7 linked regions of the Homo sapiens genome follow. The protein of the gene in region 1 interacts with the protein of each later gene in a pairwise test. Each region holds a gene or a part of one and is shown in the gene's direction. Other genes may lie near its edges. The genes, in order: MBIP, MIS18A, PPFIA1, BFSP2, TXLNB, NDEL1 and RAB5A.

Region 1 (4,316 bases):
TTTAAATAGTATTGTCCACATCTGTAGTTCCAGCTACACCTCTGGGCTTCCCATCTCCCACTCGTTGTGCTGCTTTAGGATCTTTATACTCATGCCCTTCTGTCCATGCTTTTTCTTCCTAATCCTAGACCAGTGCAGATTCACCTTTTGTATAATCTTATATAGCACCTGGTATTCCCTGCTCCCCTTTAAAGCAGTTATCATGGTTCTGTTTGTTTAATGTCTGTCTCCTGCTAGATAGTCCGTGAGAGTGCAACTATGTCTGTCATATTCATTTCTTTGTACCTATTACAGTGCCTGGCACAAAGCAAGTGCTCAAATGTTTATTGAATGGACAGTTGCTTATTTCACCTTTGCAGATGTATGTACGGAGGGACAGAAAGTTAGTGTTTGACTCTCTCAGGGTAGGTCAAGGGATGATGGCATCCTAATGAAGTGACATTTGAGGCCTTGAAGGATTAGTAGGAATTTTCCAGAGCAAAGCATTCCAAAAAGAAGAAACACCATTTGCAAAAAAGGACAAAAACACAAAATATGGTTCAGGAGATATCTGAATCCAGTATAGCTGGAGTATACTAGCTATCTGAAGCTATGCTAGCCAGATGAAGGTAGAAGAAGAAAACAGAATGAGTAAGTCTTTGAGAGTAATAAGACACTGGCATTAAGAATTAATCTCTTCCCTCAGAAGTGGATGGGTTTAAAATGCCACTGTATAAAAGGATTGACTGGTTAAGTCTCTAATAATAGTATGAAACAGTTAAGTTTTTGGAAAAATATCTGTTGAATGTTTACTATGCTCCAAGCACTATTTTAGGCACAAGGGATACTGAGATGATATAATCATAGTCCCCAGCTTCAAGGACTTTATAATCCAAATGAGAGAAAGATTAATAGTGAAGTAGAGTTTTAAAGGAGTAATGAAAGGATGGGTGTAGTGGTGTGTGCCTATAATCCCAGTTCCTTGGGAGGCTGAGTGGGGAACAGAGCTTGAGTCCAGGAGTTTGAGACCAGCCTGGACAGTATAGTGAGAGTCTGTCCCAAAAAACTCAGGAGCACTGAAGAATGGTGGGGGCACAAGGAGCCTTTATGCGAATGAAGAGGTTTCGGCAGTGCCTGCGTTACCCAGTGAAGCTTGAACTGGCTCTTGAAAGATACAGAAGTAAGGCAGAGGACATTGTAGGTAAAGGGAGCAGCAAAAGCAAAGTCAAATGAACAAGTTAACTTATTTAAGAACAAGAACAACCAAGGTCCTAAGATTTCTTAAAATCCTCAAAATTTCTAGAATTTTTACATAACAAGTTGACAATTTTGATATAGAAATTTACCCGTATTCTTTAATTGCATAATGATTGGCTAATCATGTATTCATTCAGTCAGTAAATATCAAGCACCAGCTCTTTGCCATGCATTGTAGTCTTATGAACTGATGCTTCCTAGGTTTGTGCAGTGCACAAGCTGCACAGCCCTACCTAATGAACAAAACAGATAAAACTCTGTCCTCTTGGAGCTTATATTAGAATGGGGAAACAAATAATACAGAAAGAAAATATACTGAATGTTGGGTGGTAGTAATGGAATGGAGAAAATTAAGGTAAGGAGGATAAGGGAGTGCTGGGTAGGGGAGTGGTAGTACTGGTATTTTTAACAGAATAGTCAGAGAAGGTGTTACTGATAAGGTAACTTTTGAGCCAAGACTTGAAATTGACTTGGGATTATGGCGGTAGAGGGAACCAGCTGAAGCTTACAGGGTGCTTGGCCTCTTTGAATAACAGAAAAAAAGTAATCAAGTGGCTGGAACCATGTGGGCATAGGGAGAATATCCACATTGTGTATGGCCTTGTAGGCCATTGTGAGGGCTTTGGTATTTAATCTGAGTGAAATGATCAGGTATTGGAAGGTATTTAACCTCAGTGAAATGATCAGGTATTGGAAGCAGAGAAATGATGTGATCTAACTTATATTTTTAGAGGATCACTGGCTCCTGTGTTGAAAATACACTCTACGGAAGCATGGCAGAAACAGGGAGACCAGTTTGGGAGTTGCAGTAATCCAGGGAGAGGTGGAAGTGGTCTGGACCAGAAAGGCCACAGTGTGGAGGGGGTGAGAAGTAGAAGGATTCTTGATATAATCATAAATTTAAAATTTGAGTGGCCATAATTTACTCTTCCCCTCCTCAGAAAGTTTGTTAGTTTAGAATTATGGTAAAGCCCCTTTTTTACATTCTTTTAGGTCAAAGGAAAAATATGGCATGTAGGGAGAAATATTAATTGAAGAAAATAATATGACATATTGCAACCACTGCATTGAATTATCGTCATTTGTCACTATGCATTTTTGTCCTCCCATGTAACTATCAAAGCATATCAGAAATATAAATTGTTCTACATGGAAGCTATTCAATATCTTGTAAAATGAATTTAACATGAAACTCCTAGAATATAGGAAGCATAAATGGGGTTTGGAGAGAGGAAGTGTAGTACAATATGTCCGATAGTGTATAATACAAAAATACGACCTAAGGACTTCATTCTGTTTTACTTTTGTTTTTTATTTTCTTAAGTATTTTCCATTCCTTTGCATAAGTGTCTTTGCATGGTATTTTAAGAATAAAAATTGTGAAAAGAAAGAATTATTCAATAGTATCTCAGATTTTTTTTTAATGTATTTAGGTGGTCCAGTGCCAAGAGACATTTATCAGAGAATTAAAAAACTTGAGGATAAAATCCTTGAATTGGAAGGCATCTCTCCTGAATATTTTCAGTCTGTAGTGAGTATAAGTGTCTTTTAAAAATAAATGAAAATGTTATTGTATTCTGGATTCTTTGTGGTTTAACAGTCACTCATTGATCTATAAGCAAAACACTATTTTAATAATTCAAAGATGAATGAACACAGTCCTGTATAGGGGATATATCTAATTCCTTAAAATCTCTGGTTCTGAATATTTTTAAAATTTAGAATTTTTAAAAAGGGATACTTCTATTATATATTACCCACATTCTCAAACTTAGGCCATTTTCATGGCATAGTAAGTCAGCCTGGGTGGTGGTTGGGCCTGTTACTCTGAACTTGCTACCTTGTAAAACAGAGGCTTCCTCTGTAACCTTGCTCTTTCAGTGATCCCTCTGCCTCTTTAATCTCTCTTCCCCAACAGGCTCCTTCTCTCAGCTCATATGCAGTTAATACTAAACAAACACACACCTCAAGCTGCCACTCTTATTCTTTACCTTAACCACCAGACTTTCTATGTTTTTGTAATTCCTTAACTCTAGCATTCATTCATTCTTACCCCGTTTTCCAAGAACCTTAAGAAACAGTGTTGTGCTGGTAAGTTAGTATCTTTGGCACATCAACATTTTTCAGAAAAATGATCCTGAGCTCATTGTGTTTTCCTCAGTCTTCTGAGGTGATTATGTATAATACCTGCCTTCTCTAAGTTTTGTTTTTTTTTTAAAGCAGTACCATATTAGAACTAAAATAATATCAAAGTGAGATTATACCAAAACTCCTATTTCTGAAAAATTATGTGAGATAGCCCATTTTAGCATGGATCATATAAGTTAGTGGTGAAAATATATTTAAAATTTATTTTAGGTATGACAGCAATCTTCCAAAGTTATAGATTGAGTATAAGAGTGAGTTACAGAAAAGAAGTATTTCCAGAAGAAGAAGGCAGGTCACGTAACAAAAGGGAGCAGCAAGTCCTAAATGACAAAATTTCAGAGAAGAGTTTTAGTGATTTACTACTCTCAAATGTAAAATGAGGTTTATGAAAATACTAAGGGCTGAAGCAAAGATCAAATGAGATAATGCTGATCAAACACTTAGCATACTGCTTAGCACATGGTAAAAACCTCATTGGCATTTATTTAGTTTTATAACTACAAAGTAGCTGTATAAACGTGGAAAAGTCACTCTATTCCTCTGATCTTCAAGATGTCTAATTTTAGAAAATGTATTGGTTGTACTACATAATTACAAAGGTCTTTTCACTTTTAGGATTATTCTTTGAATGTCTTCCTAGGAGACTTCATAAAGATTTTTAATGACTTTTCCTACAGTAGTCTACCATAAGTTTTTCCCATTCTAACTGCCTTCATTAAAGAAGGCAATAACCTAGGAAAGTTATTTTTCTAGTTCAATTTCATACCTTGTTAATATAATTCTTATTAACGATAGAACCGATCTTACAATAGAGTATGGTAAAATCAGATGCCTCCAATGAGAACTTGCTGCAGCATCATTCCTCTCTTCTCTCTGATTCTGATTTATAAAAACTTAACAGAGGCCGGATGCAGTGGCTCACGCCTGTAATC
Region 2 (4,316 bases), on another chromosome or scaffold:
CAAGAAAATTTCAAGTTTATGTGCTAGAAAATATTTTCCTTTTTTTTTTTTTTTTTTTTTTTTTTGAGACAGAGTCTCACTGTGTTGCCCAGGCTGGAGTGCAGTGGTGCAGTCTCAGCTCACTGCAAGCTCCACCTCCCGGGTTCACGCTATTCTCCTGCCTCAGCCTCCTGAGTAGCTGGGACTGCAGGCTCCCGCCACCACACCCCGCTAATTTTTTTGTATCTTTAGTAGAGACGGGGTTTCACCATGTTAGCCAGGATGGTCTCGATCTCCTGACCTCATGATCCGCCTGCCTCGGCCTCCCAAAGTGCTGGGATTATTTTCCTGTATTTATAAGTGAATGCTAGCTTGGCTGCAGGTACAGTTCTTGGTCACGCTCTTTGCTTTTGACAGGTGCTGAGCAGCTGGTGCAAAAGCCTTGAGACTGGTTAAAGAGAATAAAGATAAGATTTAGGGAGGAAGGAAGAGATCAGAAACTGCAAGGCGTTGTAGTCTGTTCTAAAGAGTAGTAATCTGTTCTAGTGAGTACGTTATTATGCTAGCTTAGGCAGGGGAGTAATGTGACCCCGCATTTTCTTTGGAGAAAGCATTGAAGGAGGAACAAGTATGGAAGTGGGGAGGTTAGTGAAGAGCCAGGGCAGTAGTCCAGGCAAGAGGTGGTGCTGGTGGTTTGGGGGCTGGAGTGAAGTTTGTGAGGTAGAATTGATGGGATGGATCAGTGGAGTAGATACAGGGGAGCAGGATGAGGAGACAAAGAATCAAGGATGACACCCTGGTTTCTGATTTCAGCAAGCAGGTAGATGGAGTTGGAGTTTACCGAGTTAAGGTAGACTGTAGGAGGCCGTGAAATCAAGAGTCTGTTTTGGCCATTTTAGGTCAGATGTCCCTTCTTCATTTCTCTTCACCCTCTACCCTGTCCTTTAGTGTTTCCTAGAGCTGGATTCTTTGGGAATGTTTGCTGCTGCCTCTGAAGTCCAGCAGTGACCTCTGTCCAAGTCATTGTTCAAGTAAAAGATGTGTGGCTGGGATCCTGAGGACCCTCTCAGTTACTTTTAGAGAAATGGGCCCTGTGTTTGAAATCTGGAGATATATGTGTTGGCTGTTTGCATCTTCCTAGGTTTGGAACCCAATTTCACTATCTGGCAGATAATTCTTTGCAGTGTGTGATTTGAGGTTCTACTTGTTCCAAGTTTACTGTGGAATGAATTTTCCCCTCTAATTTTAGCCATTCTATTAATGTTAGTGGTTTTCAGGGAAAGGGAGGAAATAACCTTTTAAAATTTTTCTTAAATTTTTATTTAAAAATTTTTTTTTAGAGATGGAGTCTCGTTATGTTGTCCAGGCTGACCTCGAACTCCTGGCCCCAAGCCATTCTCTCACCTTGGCCTCCCAAAGGGTTGGGATGACAGGTGTGAGTCCCTGCGCCTGGTTGGAAATAACTCTTATTCTGCTATCTTTTCCCAGAAGACCCCAGTACATTTAGTTTTAAACCGCTCTTTTGTGTGTTTGACTTTGGGCTTATTTTTTGTCCTCCGAGTTCTAAAAAGTTGGATTAGAAACTCTCTGTCTGCAGGTATGTTATAACGAACTACATTAATAAATTATTGTTACTTTCTCTGTTTCTAGGTGTTTCCTGTAATGTTTCTGTGGATAAGGAACAGAAGCTATCCAAACGTGAAAAGGAAAATGGTTGGTGAGTAAAACTGTATTTATATGAATATGTTAGAGAATTTTCTTTAATAAAAATCTTTAAAAGGTCATTACTAGTAGTAAGATTACTTGGGATAAAACTTTTCATGATAGTAAAAAAATCAGTCGTTCGCATATATCAGTTCTTTTTTTTGCTTTTTCTATATCCTGTTTTAGAAAGGAATATGTTAGTTCTTGAGTGGTTGTGGTCACCTTTAGATATTGAAAAGTTAGAGTTTCTAGATTTCTAAAAGCATATGCTGACATTCCCTTTTTGGATCTTTGGGCTTGGTGCTGAAGAAAATCAAAAATAAAAATAGAAAAAGAAGGTCGGGCACGGTGGCTCACGCCTGTAATCCCAGCACTTTCGGAGGCCAAGGTGGGCAGATCACCGGGGGGTCAGGAATTCGAGACCAGCCTGGCCAACATGGCAAAACCCCGTCTCCACTAAAAATACACAAATTAGCCGGGCATGGTGGTGCGGGCCTGTAATCCCACCTACTCAAGAGGCTGAGACAGGAGAATCACTAGAACTACGGAGGTGGAGGTTGCAGTGAGCCAAGATCGCCAGTGCACTGCAGCCTGGGCAACAGAGAAAGACTCCGTCTCAAAAAAAAAAAAAAAAAAAAAAAAAAAGAAGAAAAGGAAATACCTATATTATAAAATCTCAATGTTAAAGGGTGCCTTAGGCTAATGCTGCCCAACTTTCTCATGTTATGGCACACACATAAAATGCTGCTGTCACACACACAGCCTATTGGGGTAAACAGACAAGGCTGTTTGTGGCAAGAGCAAACAACACAGGAGCTCCAGCAATCTGAAGCCCTGTGTGGCCACTTTAAGGGTAGAGGGGACAAATATCTTGCCATACCTGCCACCCATGTGCCATAGTGACGCCTGAGCAAACTGAGTGGGAAGCGCTGCCCTATATAATTGTTGCTGCAAATGTAAACTGTATCTTACACTTGCGTATGAAATAACTTTAGGTGGTACACAGTTAAACAAAAATTAATTATGTGTATATTTTAATGTGTATTAAAAATACTGGCTTTTCATTTTTAGTGATGCTAGAGTATCCTATCAAATAAAGTATATTTCAATTTAAAAAAAATTACTCTGTGCACTTATGACCAAATACCTCCTGATGACCCCTCCTCCCAATACCATCACATTAGGAGCTACCATTTCAACTTATACATGTGGTAGGGGACAGAAACATTCAATACTTAGTCGCTCCTAAAACCCTTTCGATTTCTTGAGTGATGGGGTGATAAGGGTATCTTTTGTTACCATGTTTGGTCTTAGTCCCCAGTTCTGACAGAAGAGCTTCTAAGATGCTTGGAATCTCTGGAGTGATAATAATGTCGTTTTTAATCCTAATGAGGTGACTGTGGCTGGGGGGCTTCTATGTAGCTTCAGGATTGGGGGCCAGAAGGACCAAGGCATGATTAGAGGGTTGGAAGTTTTGGCCCTACCCCAACCTCTTCTCCTACCTCCATCGAGGGCAGAGGGGCTAGAGATTATCAGCAATGGTGTAATTAATCATGCCTGTGTTATAAAACCTCCAAAAAACCCATGGGTTTTAGAGAACTTCCAGATTGGTGAATATGAGATGCCGGGAGGGTGGTGTACCTAGAAAGGTCTTGGAAGCTCTGTGTCCCCCTTCTGTAACCTTTGCCCTATGTATCTCTTCCATAAAAGTGAAAAAAAAAAAAAAAGAAAAAAAGTTTCTCCATTTAAGATAAATTAGTAATAGTACAGATGGTTTGTGGATGTGACAGAAATTGTGGTGCCGGCATGCAGGCCATAAAAATTTGGAAAACCCACCTCAGATCATTTCTCATTTGGTAGTTGAAGAAAGTTAGGCCCAGGGAGGCTAGAACTTTGCTAAGGTCACAGGACTAATTAGCAGTAAGAGCTAGGATGATGCTTGTTACCCTTCCTTACTGCCTTCGAAGTGCTCTTTCTTCTCCACTTTCTAGCTCTAGCTCTAGCCATTTTGATATCACCATCATTTTTGTCCTATTTGTGTACCAGGTACCAACTGTGCTATTACATACTAAATTTTTAAAATTAAATCAACTCAAAATTTTTATTTAAATTTGTCTTAAAAGGATTGTTTTTACTATCATAAATACATACTTGCCATAACTAGAAAGTAACTCTGAAGATAATTACAGTGAAAACAAATGTTATTAGTTCTAGCTGAGATGTTGTTGCCTGGCTGGTTCTCTGCCTGAGGTCTGTTCTGTTACTATTAAAAGATTTGCGACTATGAGACAAGTGTCAAAGACAGTCTAGCACCAAACCGAGACTTTCTTCTTTTTTCTAATCAGGATTGATAGAGAATTCACTCTCTTTGATCCAGAGTTATTAATACTGTTTGTATCACCTAAACCCATCGATTAGACTGCCTTCAGTTGTCTTGGACTTCACTAGGGTTGTGTGCTGCACACTCCCGTGTTGCTTTGGGATGCTTGTGAATTTTTTGATACCTGCCTGAGCCTTTCTGCTGATGGTCAGCAAGAGCACTGTGGGCTTTAGAAATATGTTGTGAAGGTGCCAGTGCTGTTTTCTCTGTTAAGTCTGACTTTGTCCTTTGTTGAGGATCTTAACAATCGGAT
Region 3 (4,316 bases), on another chromosome or scaffold:
AATCCTAGCGGTTTGGGAGGCCAAGGTGGGTGGTGGATCACTTGAGGTCAGGAGTTTGAGACCAGTCTGCCCAACATGTTGAAACCCCGTCTGTACTAAAAATACAAAAATTAGTCAGGTGTGGTGGCTTGTGCTTGTAATCCCAGATACTCGGGAGGCTGAGGCCGGAGAATGACTTGAACCCTGGAGGCGAGGTTGCAGTGATCCGAGGTCGCGCTACTGCACTCCAGCCTGGGCGACAGAGGGAGCAATTTCCCCTTGTAATTTCTTGCTGTGAATTATTTAGAAGTATGCTAATTTTTAAATATTTAGTAGGGGGTTCTAGATAGCTTTTTATTATTGATTTCTAATTTCTGTTGAAGTCAAGAGAATGTACCTTGATTTCAGTCTCTTTAAGTATGTTGAGATTTGTCTGTCTTTGAGAATATACTATACAGACATTAAAAGCATATATATTCTGTTGTTGGGTGGCATGTTCTATATTCTGTTGTTGGGTAGAGTGTTCTATATTCTGTTGTTTGGTGGATTGTTCTATATTCTGTTGTTGAGTGGCGTGTTCTATGTTCTCTTGTTGGGTGGCGTGTTCTGTATTCTCTTGTTGGGTGGCGTGTTCTATCTTCTGTTGTTGGGTGGCGTGTTCTACATTCCATTGTTGGGTGGAGTGTTCTATATTCTGTTGTTGGGTGGTGTGTTCTATGAAACGTCAGGTCAAGTTTGTTAAGGGTTGTTAGTTTAGGTTTTCTATATTCTTAATTTTTTTCTTTTTTTGCTTCTTTCATCAGTTGCTATGAGAAAGAAGTGTTGAATTTTTTCAACTATAATTGTGAATTTGCCTGTTTCCCCATTTAGTCCTGTTGGTTGTTGCTTTATCTCTTCTCTAAAACTATATTTTAACTGACTTTTACTGATTTTGAAATGGATTTTTTCTTTAGGAAAACAAAGTGTTAAAATGTAAACCAACCAGAGATAATTTTAGTGAGCAGTGTTGAATTGAGCCTTCAAACTTGTTCATGAGTCGTGATCAATCTTTGTCACATTATTATACTAAAAACTATCTCAGAGAGGAAATTTATAGCCAGTTACAGTTTTTTTGTAGTTTGATTTAAAAGTTAAATTTATCACAACGAATCATATATTTTTCATGTTACTATTCCTGTTGTATAAAAATTTTACTAACAAATTTAAAAGGTGAGAAGAGATCAAATTATTTTGCAATTATAAAATTATCATTAGTTTAGCCTTTGAGAATATAGGTAATAGATTAAAAATTCATTTTAAAAATGATATAAACTACTTTTGAGACTTCCTCTGTAACTGACCTTTTCCATTTATGAAAAGCAGACACTCGCCTATGGGGACATGAACCACGAGTGGATCGGCAACGAGTGGCTCCCCAGCCTGGGCCTCCCCCAGTACCGCAGCTACTTCATGGAGTGCCTTGTAGACGCCAGGATGCTGGACCACTTGACCAAGAAAGACCTTCGAGGGCAGCTGAAAATGGTCGACAGTTTTCACAGGTAACTTAATGGAGATAGTTCTTAATAATTGGCTAAGATTTTTCACTGTTACCATCTCTAAATCATCTCTCTTTTCTTCCAAATAGAAACAGTTTCCAGTGTGGAATTATGTGCCTGAGAAGGTTAAATTATGACCGGAAAGAACTGGAAAGAAAAAGAGAAGAAAGTCAGAGTGAAATAAAAGGTTAGTACATGACATTTAATTGATTCGGTTTACTCCTACTTGCTGGTGTGTTTGGAGCCTCAGTGACTTCCTATTTTTCAAAAAATCAAGAAAGGCTAAATTTAAGTGGAGAAAACTAACTAGTCTAGTGTCATTGCAGAGGAGGGCTGGATGAAGTTGAGTGCTTTTGAGATTCTCTTCCACAGCTAGAGAACTGTTCCCTGTGTTCTCACACATCAGTCTGGAGGTTAAATGTCTCCGGCTAGTCGTTTCCTGTGAGTTGAGAGTTTTCCTTTGGTCATGCCCTGTGTACTCCTTCACTCCGAAATGCTGTTCCACACTGTTAGATAACAACAGAGCAAAGCTCACTTGATGATTCAAGTGTGAGAAATATGACTGGGGGCTTATCCAAGGGGTTCAGGAGAACAGGAGAGCACCGTGCAGTTCTGCTCCCGGAGGGGAAGGAGAGGCAGCGTCTGCATTTCAGCTGGTCCTTGAAGAAGGAGGAGGAGCTGCTTAGGGTAAGGAAAAGGCATTTCAGTTGGAAAACACAGGCCAGGGAGGCGTTAGAGGATGTGAGACATTCATCCAGAAGACGTGGAGTTGGTTCTCTTCTCCGTTGGGGAGTCCCTCACTCGTACTCAAATTTATTTGTTTGTTTGTTTATTTATTTATTTAATTTATTTTGAGACAGGGTCTTGCTCTGTAGCCCAGGCTAGGCTGGAGTGCAGTGGTGTGATCACAGCTCACTACAGCCTTGAACTCCTGGGCTCAAGTGCTCTTCCTGCCTTAGCCTCCCTAGTAGCTCCTGGGAGTACAGGTGTGCTCCACCATGCCTGGAATTTTTTTTTTTTTTGTAGAGACAGGGTCTCGCTATGTTGCCTAGGCTGATCTCGAACTTTTGGGCTCAGGGGATCCTCCCACCTTGGCCTTCCAAAGTGTTGGGATTACAGGTGTGAGCCACCACACCCAGTCAGAATTTGCTTTTAAAATTAGACAGTAAACATTAAGCTCAGAGTAATGACTCCCAGAATTCCTGGAATGCAAGGAAGTCACCAATAACAATAATGATAAGAAGAGGCCAGTCTTACTAACAGTGAGTAGGTGCCAGGTGGTGTTCTAAGTACTCAGGGGTTGCTTTCTTTCATCTTTACCTTAGCCCTGTCAGTCTAAGTGCTGTTTTCATCCCCACTTTATACTAAGAAAGAAACTAAGGATAAAAATATGGTTGGGAGATGGCCCAGTTGAAGGGAAGTCTACTTGTGATTGAGTTAATGTGAATCAGGAGAAAAGTCGTAAGTCGACATTTATACAGTGTGTGTATATGTATGGACTTTTATCCAGAAAAGGGCATTGGCAATGAAATATGTCCATCTGTTTTGTTTTCTGTATCTATTTTACATCTTTTTCCAATAGACAAAGATCTTTGGAAGTGTCTTTGGAAGTGATTGGTGATCATCTGCATATATTTTTAGAGTGGCTATTTTTAGATCTAATAGAGCAAATTGAATAATTTGTTAATTTGCATAAGATATTGTGGCTGGGCATGGTAGCTCATGCCTGTAATCTCAGCACTTTGGGAGGCCAAGGCAGGAGTATTGTCTGAGCCCATGAGTTCAAGACCAGCCTGGGGAACATAGTGAGACCCTGTCAGTACAAAAAAATTAGCTGAGCTTCGTGACACACGCCTGTAGTTCCAGCTCCTCAGGAGGCTGAGGTGGGAAAAATCACTTGAGCCCAGGAGGTTGAGGCTGCAGTGAGCTATGATGGTACCAGGCTGTATCCAGCCTGGGTGACAGAGCAGGACATTGTCAAGAAAAAGAGAGGAAAAAAAAAGATTTTCTGCAAAGTCTCTAATGTGCTGGATGATATTGTTAAGTTTCTCTCATTTTAAAATGAGACAAAGACTTCGAGATTAGAAATGAGAGGTTTCTGTTGAATTGAGCAAAGTGTTCATATTATTATGGAGCCAGCTCCATCCGTGATGAAGTATTTCAGAAGACTCTCCAGTCTGTGTGTGAAGCATGTTTATACATGTTAGGTATTCAAGTTCTTGCAGTCCTCTGGCTTCTGATCCCTGGATCCTCATCATCTTCTTTTCTCTAGAAATAATAACTTCATTCCTCTCGTGCTCACTGGAAGGATGAGTTCTAATGGGAGAGTCTCCCTGAGAGTGGAGCAGGGCCAGGACACCATTGTCTCAGTGCAGCAAATGGTTGTCTATTTAGCAGTGTCTCCCAGCACTTTTCTCAGGAGCCGAAGGATTAGGAACCATGGTAGGAATCTTTCTCCTGCATTACAGGGTACATGTGATAAAGATGGCTTTCTGAAGCCACTTTTATAATTGTCTTTATTCTTTTGCAGACGTGCTTGTTTGGAGCAATGATCGAGTGATTCGCTGGATCCTGTCAATTGGCCTTAAAGAATATGCAAACAATCTTATAGAGAGTGGTGTTCACGGAGCACTTCTGGCCTTAGATGAAACCTTCGACTTCAGTGCACTGGCACTGCTGTTACAGATCCCGACGCAGAACACACAGGTGACGCCAAACCTGTCTGTGTCTGCACTCATTGTTCAGTTGGCACCCTGATTATAGACAGCTAGTTATTCGAATAGAAAGAAACTTTAAAAAAAA
Region 4 (4,316 bases), on another chromosome or scaffold:
TCTTGCTCTGGGGAGAAGTTAAAAACACAGAGCTTCCCTTTGTCTGGGTCACAGTTGTGACTAGACACATGGTTTTCACAAGGAAACAGGCACTATCAGATTGACAGAGATCAAGTTGGATAACTCCTGGTTTGAGGGCGGTATGGGACAACTGGCACTGTCTTACAATGCTGAAATGGATTTCAAGTTTTCCGAAGGGAAATTTGCCACTATTCACCAAAATTAAAAATATATACCCTTTCTAATCAGCAGTTCTACTACAAGAACTACTTTCTCAAAGACATGCTCTTGTATGAAAAATAAGGGATCAAAGCTTTTTCTTTGCACCATTGTTTGTAATAGAGAAAGAAAGACTAGAAACAATCTGAGTGTCCACCAGCAGAGACTTCTAAATACATTGCAGCCCTTCCAAACAAGACAACACTGTGCAGCCGCTATAAAGAATGTACTCAATTTCTATTAGGTTGGTGCAAAATTAATTGCTGTCTCTGCCATTGAAAGTAGTGGCGAAAACTGCAATCGCCTTTGCACCAACCTAATATGTACTGATATAGAATAATTTCTAAGATACTTTAAGTACCAAAGCACGGGGGGGGCAATACATATTTATTTATAAATATATAAACTATTTCTGGAAAGAGGAATAAGAAACTAGAAACAAGAGAACTGGATAATTAAGACACAGGAGAAAATGAGACTTTATAGTCTGTAGGAAATCTTTTGAATTGTATTTCATTTGCAGGCATCGTATGTTCAAAATAAATACATTTTTGTATACAAGTTGGTGAAGGGACCTGTTTAAAAAAAAAGACATTTCCAGCCAGGCGTGGTGGCTCACGCCTGTAATCCTAGCACTTTGGGAGGCCAAGGCATGCGGATTACCTGAGGTCAGGAGTTCAAGACCAGCCTGACCAACATGGTGAAACCCCATCTCTACTAAAAATACAAAAAAAATTAGCCAGGCCTGGTGGCGGGTACCTGTAATCCCAGCTACTCGAGGCAGGAGAATCGCTTGAACCCAGGAGGAGGAAGTTGTGGTGAGCTGAGATCGCACCACTGCACTCCAGCCTGGGCTACAGAGCGAGACTTCATCTCAACAAAAAAAAAAAAAAAAAAAAGATGTTTCCACGTGACAGCTGTATTTCCTCTGGTTAGAGGCAGTGGAGTGGTGATTAGAAAGGCTGGGAAGGAAGGATGGGCTCAGATTTCTGATCATCACCGCTCACACTGAGACCTGACTCTCCACAGCAACAGGCGGAGGTGGCCCACATGTCCCAGACCCAGGAGGAGAAGCTGGCAGCTGCCCTCAGGGTGGAGTTACACAACACTTCGTGCCAAGTCCAGAGCCTCCAGGCTGAGACAGAATCCTTACGTGCCCTGGTAAGTGGGCCAAGGAAAGACCTGGTGTCCTTGTGCTAATTTTAACTCTCTACTGTCAAATTCCAGTATTATGGATCTTAGTTTCCAGGGGATTCCCATCTCACAGCATATGAGTTTTGAGGCCTGAAATGTCTTCTGACTCCCAAGGATCATCAGATACTGAATCACAGCAGGTGCAATAGACACTGTAGTGCCCCACGGAAATATCTCTTACCAGGCTGCTGCAGTAAATGTTGACTGTTAACATCTGCAGCCGCCCCTTTTCAGCTGCCCCACTGCTCCAGAGACCTGCCCTTACCCACACTGAGGACACCTGGCCCAGAAGGTTAGGCCCTGCCCCCCAAGGCTCAGCCAGTGACTAAGAGGGGGCTTTAAAATTAAAAGCCCAGCCCTTTTGCTTCAACATGGAGCTAGCTCCATGCTATAGAGCTCTCCATAGGACCAGGCTGTAGCCAGATTCCAGAGACCACATCCTCGCTTAGTGCCTTCCTCTGCCCTGTCCTGCTTTCCTCACTCCCCCTTTTCCTGAGAGTACTCCTTAATGATTTGCGAGTTCCAGGATCCCTAACTCAGGCTCTGCTTCTGGAGAACCCAACCTGAGACATCTAGTAAGCTCTCAGACTCACTGGGATTTGCAAGCTCGTCTCTTTCATTATTAATTATTTATTAAAATATTAAAATAATAAAATGTATTAATAATGAAGCAATCCACCCTCTGATCTCTGGAATGGATTGAAGTTCTATTTGGGTATTAAACATCTTTTCTTAGATGTCCCCTCCAGGAGGTCATTTGCATTGTTCTAACTACAGCTTCGTTGGTGCAAATCAAAGGTTGGTCCATGTAATCCTTGTGCAGCTGAGATGGCCTGGAGTCAATGAGGCGCATGATAGGATGTAGGTCCGTGCAAGCATGTATAAGAAAAGGATCTGAGGATCTGAGGGGAGGAAAATCAAGAGTAATAGAGTCAGAAGGGCTCAGCTCCTCCATTTATCCCTTGGGTAAAGAGGCAAATCCCTGAACCACAGTTTCCTCTTCTGCAAAATGGGTATGATAGTCACAGTCCAGCCCACTTCTCAGTGTTTCTAGGGGGATCCAATGTGTGGATGCACATGAGCATGCTCTTCTGACTCTTAGCATTATTTTGAGAACTTGCTATGTTCCTAGAACTGTACCAAGTGCTTTGGAGACATAAAACTAATGAGATATGGTCCCTGCCTCCAAAGAGTTAATGTGGCTTCGGTGGAGGAGCTGATACAAATGTGAGGGAGGGGCAGATGGGAGAGAGCACCCCTGCTGTGGGAGTCAGGAGGTAGACTTCGTGGTGGGTGCTCTCCTCACTCACTAGCTATGTGAATGAACAGCTTTCATTTTCTCACTTGTAAAGTGAGGATCTATTTTGGCTATCATATCTAGTTACTGTCTTAGTAGCTTAAGACAACAGTGAATCACTTGTTCTCTCATTCTGTGATTTAGGCAGAATTCAGCAGGGATAACTCTTCTCTGTATCATGTGGCCTCTGCTGGGGCTGGAACACCCAAAAATGGCTTCTTCATTTAGCTTCTCTGGTGACTCAATTGTGCATCTCTTTTTCTCTCTCCCTGTGACCACTCCGTGTAGCTAGCTTAGACCTCCTCATATCATGACAGCCTGACATAGTCAAACTTCTGATATAGCACCTGAGTGAGCACAGAAGCTACCAGGCCTCTTAACACCTGGGCTCGAAAGTCTCTGGACATCACTTATACCACATTCTAGTGGTCAAAGCAGTCACAAGACTATCCTAGATTCAACAGGGAGAGAAATAAATTCAACTTCTTGATGAGACAATGGCAAGGTCACATTGAGAAAGCGATTGTGGAGTGGAGATAATTGTTGTAGCTGCCAATGCAAGTGTGAGCCACTTTAGGATCGTAATAGAATTTACCTCATAACGTCATTGAGATGATTAATTTGATAATGTATGTCAAGCCCTTAGCACAGTGCCTGGCAGTTAGTGAGCAGTCAATAAATGCCATCTATTATTAATTATCATATAAAATTGCTATAATAGCTACTAGTACAGTAACTCCAAGTTGGCATCACCAGCCACCTGGTCACCTCACTTAAACCCAGGGTCCTAACCATTGGGGAAAAAAATGGAAAAATAATTTACACTCTCAACCAGAAAACTTCAGAGTAGTGCCATTCTGTCTATGCCCATAGCCCAGAACAGGCTGCCTCTGTTCCCTGCTGGTTCTAGTAGATTATCGTTCTGGTCACGGGGCCTTGCAGCCAAGGTGAGGAGCACAGATTGGGACAAAATAGGTAACAAACTCTCATACAGTTTTCAGATACAGGAAGTTCATCCAGCCATTCCTGTTATTCTGTCAGAGCGATCTGTGCACACACAAGGCCCCCGCAGCTTATATAAGCTTCAGACAGCCAAGCTGGCGAGACTTTCGGCCCCCTTTGCCAATAAGGCACTATTTGCATTGGAAGCTAGGCACAAATAATGGTGCTTGAGACCTGCTGAACTCTGTGTCCAGTCAACTCAAATCAGGAATGGAATTCAAGGCCAGAAGTCACAGAAGGTCACTATTTTACTTTCTGGAGGATTTTGCAATCCCAGAAAGTCCCTTCAAATCTCCAGAGACCTGCAGAATAAGTGTGCTTCTGTGATCTCAGCTTGTTTGCTGGTGCTGTCTGCGTGGCTGACTGAGCCAGTGTACTTGCCTGCAACAGTAGCCTGATCATAGTCACTCCAGCTCAAGCATCTCTGGGAGAACCAGGCATCCTCTCTTTCTGCCATAATGTCAGGGACTTAGGTGGGGAAGCTGGATTCGGACTTTAAGGGTGAGATGGAAGACACATATAACCTTTGGCTGGGGTTCCAATGAATGCCCTGTTGGCAGTGGGTCCTAAGTCACCATGGAAAAACCTCAGGCCACATGAAGAA
Region 5 (4,316 bases), on another chromosome or scaffold:
GGATGAATATTTTACTGTTTTTTCTAATATTTTTATTTTTGTTATTGGTAATAGTGTATACACATCATCACTGTTGACCTAATAAGAACTCCAGATCCACTCTCCTACTGAGTGAGAGGCCAAAGTTCCCCTACAAATATGACAAGGCCACTGAAAGATAAGAAATAGAAAATGTAAGCCAAAGGGAACAAAATCTGACAAGAAAACACAGGCTAGGTGGTATTTTCGAAACTGATAGAGGCCTCTCGTGGGTAAAATCTCTCTCGTGGGTAAAGTCACTTTCCCCTTGGCATCTGAAATGAAAGAAATGAAAACAGATTTCCCATTATGCAGCCCACAATGACTGGTACCAGTCCGTGGCCTGAGGGTTGGAGATATCTGCTGCAGAACACCTTGGTATGGAGGAGTCAAACATTGGTCATCATGGCAGGTTTGCTTTACGATGGCATCACTCTTGCCATGCAAGGGGCTATTTTCCTACAGATATCGCTATGATGCTAAAACCCATTGCTACAATGCTTTCAAGAAGGCCTAAATAATACATTCAGGTAGCATACTTCACCCAACTAGGATAAAATTAAAAGAACTCAGATAATAACTTTTAAGTATCTTCAAGTTCCAAAGTGCAGGGTTGGAATCACTCTAGTGTTTTGGAACATGGAAAAACATAATAAAATTGCTCTGTGTTACAGAGCAATTTTTTCTTCTCTGACAAAACATCTCAAATGTGTCCCTTTGCAAAGTTAGTCATTATTCAAGTTTCCGTAAGACAATATACAAAATCTCATTCCAGAGGTAAGCAACTTCAAGTGTTCCTAACCAGAAAAGTTATTTTTCAATCACCCTAAAACTTTTACATAAGAATTGGGGTGTGTGTGTGTGTGTGTGTGTGTGTGTGTGTGTGTGTGTGTGTGTGTTGAGGGGAAAGATATGAAGAAAATAGGGATAAAGTTAAAATAACCAATTTGGGTTTCTACTCTCTTCCATGAGTTATTTCATAATCTGCATTAACCTTACAATTACCAAATAGTCAGGATGATGTTTTTAAAAATTCCAACTCCCTAATTCTGCCGCTATTTACGATACCAAATTCCAACTGACTGTGTTTGACCAAAATCAATGCTTGTGGATTAGAGTACCTAGGTGTGTCCACTCTAATTGAGTATGTGTGGGCTCATGACCTTTCTGTGCCTTCCCACTCATCATCATTAGCATATTATTTTAAACACTGTACTATTTAACAGCTACATTATGCATGAAAACAACATTTTTAGGCTAACCTCAACTTGTAACCACCATTTTAAACTTTCAGTTGTTTGCAAGTAGCTTTGGCAGCCTTCTTAGCTACTTTTCAGTTAAATGGTACTGTGCTATCGTCTAGACTAATGGTTTTCCAACTTAACTGTTTATTAGAATCAATTGCAAAATTTGTGAAAAATGCTCCTCCTGAGCCCCCACACACAGATATTTGGAGTTTGTAGGCCTGGAGTGAAGCATGATCTAGTTTCTCAGTTCTTTGAACATGCTATACGCCATCTCCCACAAGGCCTGTGCACATTCTAGTTTCTTTGCCTAGAAATTTCTACCTATCCTCACGTCCTCAATGAGTACTTATTTATTTATTTTTATTTATTTACTTTTTTTCTTTGAGACAGAGTCTCACTCTGTTGCCAGGCTGGAGTGCAGTGGCGCGATTTCGGCTCACTACAACCTCCAGCTCCCTAGTTCAAGCGATTCTCCTGCCTCAGCCTCTCGAGTAGCTGGGATTACAGGCATGTGCCACCATGCCCAGCTAATTTTTGTATTTTTAGTAGAGACGGGGTTTCATTGTGTTGGCCAGGATGGTCTCGATCTCCTGACCTCATGATCCACCCGCCTCGGCCTCCCAAAGTGCTGGGATTACAGCCGTGAGCCACCGCACCCGGCCCACAATGAGTATTTATTAATGCCTAGTCTTTATGATGCACTGTGCTAGGTGCGCAAAGATAAATAAGTCATGGCCTTTAGTCAAGGATCTCTAGGTAGAGAGGAAGAAGAAGACACATAAGCTAATTGTCATATAGTGTAAGTGCAAGAGCAGGAACAGGAAAATTTTTAGGCGAGCATGGGAGATGTTCACCCTGGGTAATTTTGACACAGATTGTGGAAGCAATGGTTCTGATTCTTCAGAAAGTGTTTTCTCTGCTCTTTTGGAGAAAATATAAACATCTGGCTGTGGTCTCCTTTTATAACCTATTTGGACCTCTTAGAGAATTTTAATAAGTCATTCAACCCATATCTGAAGATATATTCTTAGATTTTGCTTATGTACTTGATCAAAGATGTCTTTAATCATTGTATTTATTAGATGCTATTTGCTTTATTGGCACATTTGAGATGCTAAAATGTTTTGACTCTCTACTACAACATTTTCCAAAGTGTGTCTACTTTGGGATGCTTGAGATTTCACAAAGTTAAACAGTTTCTTTACTGCCAGAATTCTCTGACCTTTACTGTATACACAATGAAGATCTAAAATAGTGATGGGCATAGTTTCCATCATTTCCAAAACTTATTGACTGATTGGATCTATGAGAGACATTTTTTTTTTTTTTTTTTGAGACGGAGTTTCGCTCTCATTGCCCAGGCTGGAGTGCAATGGTGCGATCTCGGCTCACCACAACCTCCGCCCTCCGGGTTCAATCGATTCTCCTGCCTCAGCCTCCCAAGTAGCTGGGATTACAGGCATGTGCCACCACTCCCGGCTAATTTTGTATTTTTAGTAGAGACAGGATTTCTCCATGTTGGTCAGGCTGGTCTTGAACTCCCGACCTCAGGTGATCCGCCTGCGTCGGTCTCCCAAAGTGCTGGGATTACAGGCATGAACCACCACGCCTGGCCAAGGCTTTTTTTTTTTTTTTTTTACAGAACACCTTGAATATTTGGGAAATGTCTCTACAACCTAAGCTCCCAGGACTTCTTTTTCCTTTTGAGGCTGCACTTTCTCCTACAATAAACGCAGTACTTACCGGAGCAGTTGGGGGAATATTTAAAAATCTCTCTCGTGGGTAAAGTCACTTTCCCCTTGGCATCTGAAATGAAAGAAATGAAAACAGATTTCCCATTATGCGGCACCATGCCAAGTTCACATCTAAAGTATCCCCTTTGTTCTCCTACTCGCATCCTCCAGGCTCAGAGGTATCTCTCATTTATCACTTCTTTGACAACATTATGTGGGCTGGGAGAAAAACAAAGCTCATTCACAGGGCTATTCTGAGCTCAGAATCCATCTAGTCAACCTACTAATTTTATAGACAGGGAAATTGAAGCCTAGGGAGTTTCAGAATCCACCAAAAAATGTTACTCATCTAGTTGATGTGATTGTGAGATTAGTCATAAAGCAAGGGATGGACTTTGTGTCACTGACATCGCAGGACCAAAGTGGTACAGAAGCAAGCATCATATTGGTTAAGGAGCATTTATTACACCTCAGTTAATGAATTTTGTCTTTCTAGTTACAAGTGAGCTTCAGTGGTACCTTCTGAGAGGCTCCTGACTAGGACATCAGTATTCTGAAATGTCTTCAGACATCCATTTACATAGTCTTCCTTTATTTTTTGAGACAAAGTCTCACTCTGTTGCCCAGGCTGGAGTACAGTGGTGCGATCTCAGCTCACTGCAACTTCCACCTCCCAGGTTCAAGCGATTCTACTGCCTCAGTCTCCCATGTAGCTAGGATTACAGCCACGTGCCACCATGCATGGCCAATTTTTATATTTTTAGTAGAGACGGGGTTTCACTGTGTTGGCCAGACTGGTCTCGAACTTGTGACCTCAAGTGATCTGCCCACCTCACCCTCCCAAAGTGCTGGGATTGCAGACGTGAGCCACCGCGCCCGGCCCCTAGTCTTCCTTTGAACGGTCCGGTCACTCTCCCAGATAGTCTGTTTCATCTGTTTTAGCTTGATTTCTAGTTTCTCTGAGAGAGTAATAAACTGCAGCTTTGATATTTTCTGAAGGAGATGGTATTTTCTGAAGGAGACTAAATTTTCTGAAGGAGATGATAAGAAGACCAGAGAAATTCAAGGGAAAGAGGAATAAGCAGAGACAAAGCTTGACAGGTAGATTCATAGAGAAGCTAGAACCTAGACCAGACCTTGACAGGGAGGAGAGTTTACAGAAGCAGATGGAAGGGGAGAGAAAAGCCTTGAGGAAAATTATTAGTACTCTCTTCTGACCAAGGTAGGGAGTGGATGGATGAATATTTTACTGTTTTTTCTAATATTTTTATTTTTGTTATTGGTAATAGTGTATACACATCATCACTGTTGACCTAAT
Region 6 (4,316 bases), on another chromosome or scaffold:
GTGAGCCACCGTGCCCTGCCAATAATACATAATTATCTATCTTCATTCTAGCTTCAGAAAATTGTGGATGTACCATTAGAGCATTGTTTTAGCAGTATGTTTTCTATATTAGCTAACTTTCTATAGCCTGAATATCTCCAGTTACATAGTTTGAAATAAGTGAACACATCCTCCCAGTGTAACTTGAAGCAAACTGAACAGACTGTATAACAGCCCCTGAAACTGTCGTTTGAGTATCTGCAGTGGTAGCAAATTTTATTATTTGTAAATAATCTGATTTTTATTTTTATTTTTTTGGAGGCAGGGTCTCATTTTGTCACCCAGGCTGGAGTGCAGTGGAGTGATTACAGCTTACTGCAGCCTCAACTTCCTGGACTCAAGCGATCCTCCCACCACAGTCTCACGAGTAGCTGGGACCACAGGTGCATGCCACCACACCCAGCTCATTTTTGTATTTTTGTTAGAGATGGGGTTTCAGCATGTTGTCCAGGCTGGCCTTGAAGTTCCAGGCTCAACTGACATTCCCACCTCAGCCTTCCAAGTGCTGGGATTAATATGCGCGAGCCACTGTGCCTGGCCAGAATCTGATTTTTAAAAAGAGTAAATCTGATGGGTAAAAGTAGGGCAATAGAGCTGGATAATACCAGTTAGGAAGCAATAAAGATGAGGTGTGACCACAAAGTAAGAAGTTTTTGCTTTGTTCTTTTTTTTTTTTTTTGAAACGGAGTCTCTCTCTGTCACCCAGGCTGGAGTGGAGTGCGGTCGCGCGCTCTCGGCTCACTGCAAGTTCTGCCTCCCGGGTTCACGCCATTCTCCTGCCTCAGCCTCCCGAGTAGCTGGGACTGCAGGTGCCCACCACCACGCCCAGCTAGTTTTTTGTGTTTTTAGTAGAGACGGGGTTTCACCATGTTAGCAGGATAGTCTCAATCTCCTGACCTCGTGATCCGCCCGCCTCGGCCTCCCAAAGTGCTGGGATTACAGGTGTGAGCCACTGTGCCCGGCCTTTTTTTTTTTCTTTTATTTGAGATGGAATCTCACCCTTTTGCCCAGGCTGGAGTGCAGTGGCCAATCTCGGCTCACTGCAACCTCCTCCTCCCGGGTTTGAGCGATTCTCCTGCCTCAGCCTCCTGAGTAGCTGGGATTACAGGTGCCGGCCACCATACCCAGCTAATTTTTTTTTTTTTTTTTCATATTTTCGGTATAGACGAGGTTTCACCATGTTGGCCAGGCTGGTCTTGAACTCCTAACCTCAAGTGATCCGCCTGCCTCAGCCTCCCAAAGTGCTAGGATTATAGGCATGAGCCACCGCGCCTGGCCTGCTTTGTTCGCCTGCTTTGTTCTTAATGTGGCTCATAAAGGCTATTCCAAAAAAGAAGTTTTGGAAATGTTTTTCAGCAATGGTGATATCACTGGAATATGCATATATTCCTGAAATGATCAGTTTTAAAGAATCATTTGCATGTTTTAAATTTTGAAGCCTGTTTACTTTGTGGTCATACTTGAAAGGTCTGCTATCGAACTACCAATTTTTAATAGCTTGATGAACATTTAGGTTTTTACTATGTGCCAGGTTCTGTCCTAAGTACTTTACAAATATTAGCTCACTTCATAAGCTCATTCTAATGATTATCCCCATTTTACAGGTGAGGAAATGGGGCACTGAGTCATTAAGTCACTTGCCCAAGGTCACCCAAGTAGTGAGTAGATGCATCAGTAGCGAGTCTGAACTTCCAGGTCTGACTTCAGACTTGGGCAGTTTGGCTTCCCGGTCTGGGCTCTTAACCACTATGCTATGCTGCTCCTATGACTTATTCTTGGTTAAATGTTTTAAATTGTTTTGATCTGGAAGAGATGATGGTCCTTTTAGTAAATGATATCCAACATAGGTTATAATACTGTTAGAGGGGCCAATAAGCGGGTTATGAAAATAGCCTATTGATTAGAAAAGTTGTGGTCAACATTCAATTCACATGAGATTCAGCAAGAAAATAAAGAATGTGACCAGGCGCGGTGGCTCATGCCTGTAATCCCAGCACTTTGGGAGGCCGAGGAGGGCAGATCACGAGGTCAGGAGTTCGAGACAGCCTGGCCAACATGGTGAAACCGTGTCCTACTAAAAATACAAAAATTAGCCAGGTATGGTGGTGGGTGCTTGTAATCCCAGCTACTTAGGAGGCCGAGGCAAGAGAATTGCTTGAACCTGGGAGTCAGAGGTTGCAGTGAACTAGGATTGTGCCACTGCACTCCAGCCTGGGCAACAGAGTGAGACTCCATCTCAAAAAAAAAAAAAAAAAAAGAATGTGTGTGAAGTAAAATAATTTTGCTAGAATTACTTGACACTGAATGTAAGTAGTTGGACAAAGAGGATGCAAGGGCTAGAACTAGATTCTCAAAAAGTTTCATGCAAAAGGCTATTTAAAAACCTGAGTTATCAGGGGACACTCATGGAAAAGTTGGTGTTGTATTAAGAATATGTCCCTGTACAAGAACCAGAAGTCAGAGACAAATGGATACTCGCAATACATCCAGAGGGGTAAACAATGCTATTCCTCAGGGATTACTACTTAACTAGGTGCTCTTCAAAGCATTAACTGCTAGTATGTCCTCTGATACTATATAAATGGGTCAAAACCAACAAAAAATACCCCCACATGGAAATGTTTTGAAGTGGACTCCTGAATAACATTTAGAGATTCAAAACAATCCTAACTCTTTTCGTAGAAGAATTGGCCCCACATTCAAACACCTTCAAATAAATGTTAGATGCCAAGGAAGGTATCTAACAGTCATTAGGAACTTCCATAATGATACCGGTTCATGGGCCACACTACTAGCAATATCATCAAATGCTGCACAGTAACAGAAAGAGTACTGAAAACTCAAAAGAAAAATGATCTGACCAGTGAATAAAATGTTCAGTACAGAAGCAGCACTAGGCACTCAGCCCCAGAAAGGCAGATAGGTAATCTAGGGGCAATACAAAGCATAACAAAATATTTAAGGGACTGAGATGGCTGCCAAATCATTATAGGCTAAAAAGGCAAGAAATAATCACTTTGGGAAGACCAAGGCTGAGAGGTATTATCATCAAAGGCTACAAAACCAGAGGGGACATAAAAAAGGAGAATACAATTTTGTTCGCCAAATCCTGGAACCTTCCAAGAGAGCAGCACATGGGACTCAGGGCAAAGCTAAGACCAAAAACAGGAAGTTCATCGATGGCTATAAAGTTATGGAACTTATCCCAGTTGCTTCAAATAAGATAAAATCAATACATTACAAGTTTTAGACTTGAAATCATTAACTTACAAAATGCTTTATATAAGGATCAGGACTTTCTTCTATTGCTTTTTTTATTTTCCTGAGCTTTTAAATTTCTCTTTTTCTTAGTGACAGTAGAGTAACATGTCTTCACCACAACCTCAAATATATCTAGCTTCTCACTTGTGCTCTATGCTATCTGTTCTATGGGATTCCTTATTTTTCTTGGTGTCATCCGTCTGAAGCATTCTATGGGCCTGATGGACTAGGCTTCATCCTGGGACTTTTCATTGCAGCCCTAGGTTGGAGCCCCTATTTCCTGCATCCCATGCTGTCCAGGTCATGGTTTTCTCCCTTCTTTTGTACTTGTCTCAGGAAGTGTGTAGGAGGTAGCCCTCCTGACCTTTTTTTTTAAGTCTTTGTCTAGTACCTTCTGAGTTCTTGTATAAGAAAAAATCTCATTTCCTGAATTGTCTGTTTCCTCTCAGTTCACTAGGTCCTAAAATTTTCTTATTCATGCTACTGGGTTTTCTTACTTGTCAGATGGCTCTTGGTTGTCCATTTATATTTCAGGGCCGGATAATGATGATTTGAGGTAGCTAGTGTGCAGTGGTTATCTCTAAGGTTCTTCCCAATAAATCCCATCAACTCCCTATTCTTTGATGTGGAGCCTGTACTGAGCCTATGTCAGTGACTGAATGTGGCTGCCCATGTATCGGATTAATAATTTTGTCTAACTGATAATGATAGGTTTTCTAATATTGATTTAATATATGGTGGTACATTGTAAGGTGGAAGTAAACTACCCGCACATCTTTTTGCTTACTCCATTCCTGAAGTAGGAATTCAGATGTTAATAAAGTGGTACTTTGAAAGTCAAGAGGGAATATTGAAAGGATGATTATAAATCAGTTCACATATTTATTTATTTATTTTAGAGACAGGGTCTTGCTGTGTTGCCCAGGCTGGAGTGCAGTGGCACAATCATGGCTCACTGCAGCCTCAAAATCATGGCTTACTGCAGCCTCATTGCTTCTGGGCTCAAGCAGTCCTCC
Region 7 (4,316 bases), on another chromosome or scaffold:
GTTGCCAGGATGGAGTGCAGTGGTGCGATCTCAGCTCACTGCAACCTCTGCCTCATGGGTTCAAACGACTCTCCTGCCTCAGCCTCCCGAGTAACCGGAACCACAGGCAAGCGCCACCATGTCGAGCTAATTTTTGTATTTTTAGTAGAGACAGGGTTTCACCATGTTGGCCAGGATGGTCTTGATCTCCTGACCTCGTGATTTGCCTTCCTCAGCCTCCCAGAGTGCTGGGATTACAGGCATGAGCCACCACGCCTGGCCTATAATGCTACTTTCCTAGTGTTAAAATTAGAATCAGGGAAAGTACAGATCCAAAAAATTCTTATGGCAGGGAATGAAAGGTAGGAGCAAATATTGAATCAACTGAACAAATTAAATCTAGGTTAAGGTAATAATGACTACCACAATTAAAGTGTCACAATGTTTTAAAAAATAATATAGCAAGAGGCCTGGTACGGTGGCTCACGCCTATAATCTCAGCACTTTTGGGAGGCACTCCAGCCTGGGAGATAGAGCAAGACTGTGTCTCAGAAAAAGAAAAAAAAAGATAATATAACAAGAAATACTAATTTGGTGGTAACTGACTGGGACTAAATTGCCAGTGTGCGCCAATAAAAACTAGTAAAATGGAACAGGACATGGTGTCAGCAGTATAGATGGTACTTTTAGGCACACTGGGTTTCCCCCAACTTCATTTTTTAAGACTATCAGTGCATTTCTTTAATTGTAGAGCAATTTTGAAATGCAGTCTTCGCTGGGCTTGGTGGCTTACGCCTGTCATCCCAGCACTTTGGGAGGCCAAGGTGGGCGGATCACCTGAGATCAGGAGTTCGAGACCAGCCTGGCCAACATGGTGAAACCCCATCTCTACTAAAACTACAAAAATTAGCCACGTGTGGTGGTGCATGCCTGTAGTCCCAGCTACTCAGGAGGCTGAGGCAGGAGAATTGCTTGAACCCGGGAGGCGGAGGTTGCAGTGAGCTGAGATCACGCCCCTGCACTCTAGTCTGAGACTCTTGTATCAAAAAAAAAAAAAAAAAGAAGAAGGAAAAGAAATGTAGTCTTAAGTTTATTTAGTATTATAACAAGCTTTTTTAAGATGCAGAAGTTTTTCAATCTGTGATTTCACTACAAAGGCCCTATATGTAAGCATATATGTAAATAGCTTAGAAGCACAGGTTTGCCAGTATTTAAAGCTATTATCAGCTGTGGGTATGCAATCTGTCAAGTTTCTAGGTGTTTTCTTTTTTTTTCCCCCCTCATTTATTACTTTTAACTGACACATAATAGTTGTACATACTTACGGGGTACAGTGTGACATTTTGATAGATGTATACAAGCAGGTGTTTTCTATATTATGAAAACATTTGGAGAAAAATGATTGACTTATTGTAGTCCTTTTCTTTCAGCTGCTTTTCTAACCCAAACTGTATGTCTTGATGACACTACAGTAAAGTTTGAAATATGGGATACAGCTGGTCAAGAACGATACCATAGCCTAGCACCAATGTACTACAGAGGAGCACAAGCAGCCATAGTTGTATATGATATCACAAATGAGGTAAGTATGGATGCATTCCACAGTAAAACTAATTTGAGTACCCACTTTTGGTGTTCAGAATTTTGATTAAATGTTTTGGAAAATCTTTTTCTGATAGTCATGACCTTTCTGCTGAAGCTTTTGTGAATTAGAAAATCTGGTTTTAAAAAAAAACGAAAATGTCTCATAATACAATAGTCCTAATAATTTCTTTCCCACAGTCACTTGGGACAGTCTTTTAAAGCCTTGTATCACAAAGATGCTTGGTAACCATTTTTTGAGCCTGTGCTCAATGGCTGTTTCTTTGTTTAACAGGAGTCCTTTGCAAGAGCAAAAAATTGGGTTAAAGAACTTCAGAGGCAAGCAAGTCCTAACATTGTAATAGCTTTATCGGGAAACAAGGCCGACCTAGCAAATAAAAGAGCAGTAGATTTCCAGGTATGTTAAATTTAACTCTCATTTGAAAGGCACTTTTTTCCTGTATGTTTTTCTTTCATGTCAACACTTGAATTAGTTATAATGTCAAAACCATGCAAGTAATAGAAAATACTGATTTTTAAAACAAATATAAAGTACTACATATAATAAAATGTTTCTGATAAACCTAAATTTTTAAATAGATTATTGTAATATATAAACTGACCCAAAGATTTTGTAGACTTAAACAATAAAGGCCGGGTTCAGTGGCTCACGCCTGTAATCCCAGCACTTTGGGAGGCCGAGGTGGGTGGATCACCTGAGGTTGGGAGTTCAAGACCAACCTAACCAACTTGGAGAAACCCTGTCTCTACTAAAAATACAAAATTAGCTGGAGATGGTAGTGCATGCCTGTAATCCCAGCTACTTGGGAGGCTGAGGCAGGAGAATCTCTTGAACCCAGGAGGCGGAGGTTGTGGTGAGCCAAGATCACACTATTGCACTCCAGCCTGGGCAACAAGAGCAAAACTCCGTCTCAAAATAAAAAAGAAAAACAGTAAAAGTAGTCATTGTTCACAGTGCAGAAAGTGATTGTATCCTGCCCTAATTCCTCCATCCCACACATACTTTATGTCCTAACCCTCTTCTACTCATGTGCAAATATGTATCAGCACATGTGTGTACCCCACATATGTACATACGCAAACACTTATGTGGTTGTTCTTAAAGGGGCATTCAAACATAAAGGTTCTGCCAATCTGTATCCAGAGTTGGAAAATAATAAGCTAAAAACTAATAATTAAAAAAAATTTTTTTAAGGCTGAGAAAATCCAGTTTTGTATTACGATTGCTAATTCAGAATGTTTGCTGCTGCAAAATAGGCAAGTGCAATCACTTAAAAACAAAGCAAGTCCTCTATTTAGACTTTTTTTTTTTTTTTTAAGATGGAGTCTTGCTCAGTTGCCCAGGCTGGAGTGCAGTGGCGCAATCTCAAGCTCACTGCAAGCTCCACCTCCTGGGCTTACGCCATTCTGCTGCCTCAGCCTCCCAAGTAGCTGGGACTACAGGCGCCCACCACCACTCCTGGCTAATTTTTTGTGTGTTTTCAGTAGAGACAGGGTTTCACTGTGTTAGCCAGGGTGGTCTCGATCTCCTGACCTTGTGATCCACCCGCCTCCGCCTCCAAAAGTGCTAGGATTACAGGCGTGAGCCACCACGCCCGGCATACTTAGACCTTTTAAAACTGTGCCTGTTCTCTTGCTCTTTGGCTTCTCTACTAGAAGGGCGGTTGTGGCTGTTCTGTATATATCAGTGATGAAATAGTTTTCTTTTTTGATGACGTAGATGGAATCCATGTATTCTTGCATCATTAGGTATTAAGTTGGGCATGTTACATTTGTAATTTTATTTAATTCTTAGGACAACGATGTGAGATGTAGTATCCATTACTCTTTCCAAAATTGTTGCCTTCCCAGCACAAGAGTGGCAGAGAAAACACTTAAATTACAGTCAGAAGTGGCCCTGTCACATAACAGTTCAGAGGAACCTCAGTTGTTTCTTTGTCCAATGGGAAAGATCATTGGTTACCCCTCACAACAGCTATGAGGATCAAAAGTAATAATATATGTAAACTGTAAAAGCATGACAAAAATGTAGGGCAGTGATGTAATTTTCAAAGGAATGATTTATGATATATTCAAGATTATAATATTGCTGTAGAAGTCATTGAAAATTAAATATGAGGTTGTCATTTAGTGTTTGAAGCCAGTGTTAGATATTTGGTTTCCCTTTGTCTTCATTGCAGACAGTAAGTGCAAATAAAAATTGCCGTTGAGATCAAAGAGAGTTTTATTTAGAATAAGATAATTCTCCCCCATCTCTGGAACTCAGTATTTGAAAGCAGATTTAATGTAAGAAAAGATTAATCAAGGTGGGATAATGCAAGAATTTCAGACAAAAAAGGAAATAGTCCATTATAAAATTATCTTGCACAGTGCTCTTACCTCTGTTGTAGCTTATTATATAGTTGTTGATTATAGATGATTATAGGAATCAGGTTGTAGTAATAAGAAAGTCTCCTTTTCTATAACAAGTTTAAAGCAGGTGTAGTGTATTTCCAAGAGATATATCTCATATATCTCATTTTTTGTTCTGTAAACAGGAAGCACAGTCCTATGCAGATGACAATAGTTTATTATTCATGGAGACATCCGCTAAAACATCAATGAATGTAAATGAAATATTCATGGCAATAGGTAAGATTAATATCTCTTTTTAAATGATCAATATAAGCAAAACAAGTGTGAAGCATATTTGGTTTGACTGTCTCTTTTTTAAAAAATTTTTGGGGGTGGGTTTG

The links.
Region 2: the proteins of MBIP (region 1) and MIS18A interact in binary tests that used the Homo sapiens proteins (3 or more experiments, as listed by UniProt).
Region 3: the proteins of MBIP (region 1) and PPFIA1 interact in binary tests that used the Homo sapiens proteins (3 or more experiments, as listed by UniProt).
Region 4: the proteins of MBIP (region 1) and BFSP2 interact in binary tests that used the Homo sapiens proteins (3 or more experiments, as listed by UniProt).
Region 5: the proteins of MBIP (region 1) and TXLNB interact in binary tests that used the Homo sapiens proteins (3 or more experiments, as listed by UniProt).
Region 6: the proteins of MBIP (region 1) and NDEL1 interact in binary tests that used the Homo sapiens proteins (3 or more experiments, as listed by UniProt).
Region 7: the proteins of MBIP (region 1) and RAB5A interact in binary tests that used the Homo sapiens proteins (3 or more experiments, as listed by UniProt).

What each region holds. Positions count from the first base shown.
Region 1 is NC_000014.9:36,306,543-36,310,858, reverse strand, and holds part of MBIP (MAP3K12-binding inhibitory protein 1), read left to right. Parts: intron 1-2,669; coding exon 2,670-2,767; intron 2,768-4,316. UniProt on the Homo sapiens protein: Inhibits the MAP3K12 activity to induce the activation of the JNK/SAPK pathway. Component of the ATAC complex, a complex with histone acetyltransferase activity on histones H3 and H4.
Region 2 is NC_000021.9:32,272,210-32,276,525, reverse strand, and holds part of MIS18A (protein Mis18-alpha), read left to right. Parts: intron 1-1,629; coding exon 1,630-1,696; intron 1,697-4,316. UniProt on the Homo sapiens protein: Required for recruitment of CENPA to centromeres and normal chromosome segregation during mitosis.
Region 3 is NC_000011.10:70,370,874-70,375,189, forward strand, and holds part of PPFIA1 (liprin-alpha-1), read left to right. Parts: intron 1-1,319; exon of another isoform or gene 1,320-1,338; coding exon of another isoform or gene 1,339-1,341; coding exon 1,342-1,517; exon of another isoform or gene 1,518-1,603; coding exon 1,604-1,701; intron 1,702-4,044; coding exon 4,045-4,220; intron 4,221-4,316. UniProt on the Homo sapiens protein: May regulate the disassembly of focal adhesions. May localize receptor-like tyrosine phosphatases type 2A at specific sites on the plasma membrane, possibly regulating their interaction with the extracellular environment and their association with substrates.
Region 4 is NC_000003.12:133,465,580-133,469,895, forward strand, and holds part of BFSP2 (phakinin), read left to right. Parts: intron 1-1,248; coding exon 1,249-1,380; intron 1,381-4,316.
Region 5 is NC_000006.12:139,281,859-139,286,174, reverse strand, and holds part of TXLNB (beta-taxilin), read left to right. Parts: intron 1-254; exon of another isoform or gene 255-293; intron 294-3,008; exon of another isoform or gene 3,009-3,071; intron 3,072-4,316. UniProt on the Homo sapiens protein: Promotes motor nerve regeneration. May be involved in intracellular vesicle traffic.
Region 6 is NC_000017.11:8,438,237-8,442,552, forward strand, and holds part of NDEL1 (nuclear distribution protein nudE-like 1), read left to right. Parts: intron 1-4,316. UniProt on the Homo sapiens protein: Required for organization of the cellular microtubule array and microtubule anchoring at the centrosome. May regulate microtubule organization at least in part by targeting the microtubule severing protein KATNA1 to the centrosome.
Region 7 is NC_000003.12:19,974,192-19,978,507, forward strand, and holds part of RAB5A (ras-related protein Rab-5A), read left to right. Parts: intron 1-1,409; coding exon 1,410-1,561; intron 1,562-1,855; coding exon 1,856-1,978; intron 1,979-4,118; coding exon 4,119-4,212; intron 4,213-4,316. UniProt on the Homo sapiens protein: The small GTPases Rab are key regulators of intracellular membrane trafficking, from the formation of transport vesicles to their fusion with membranes.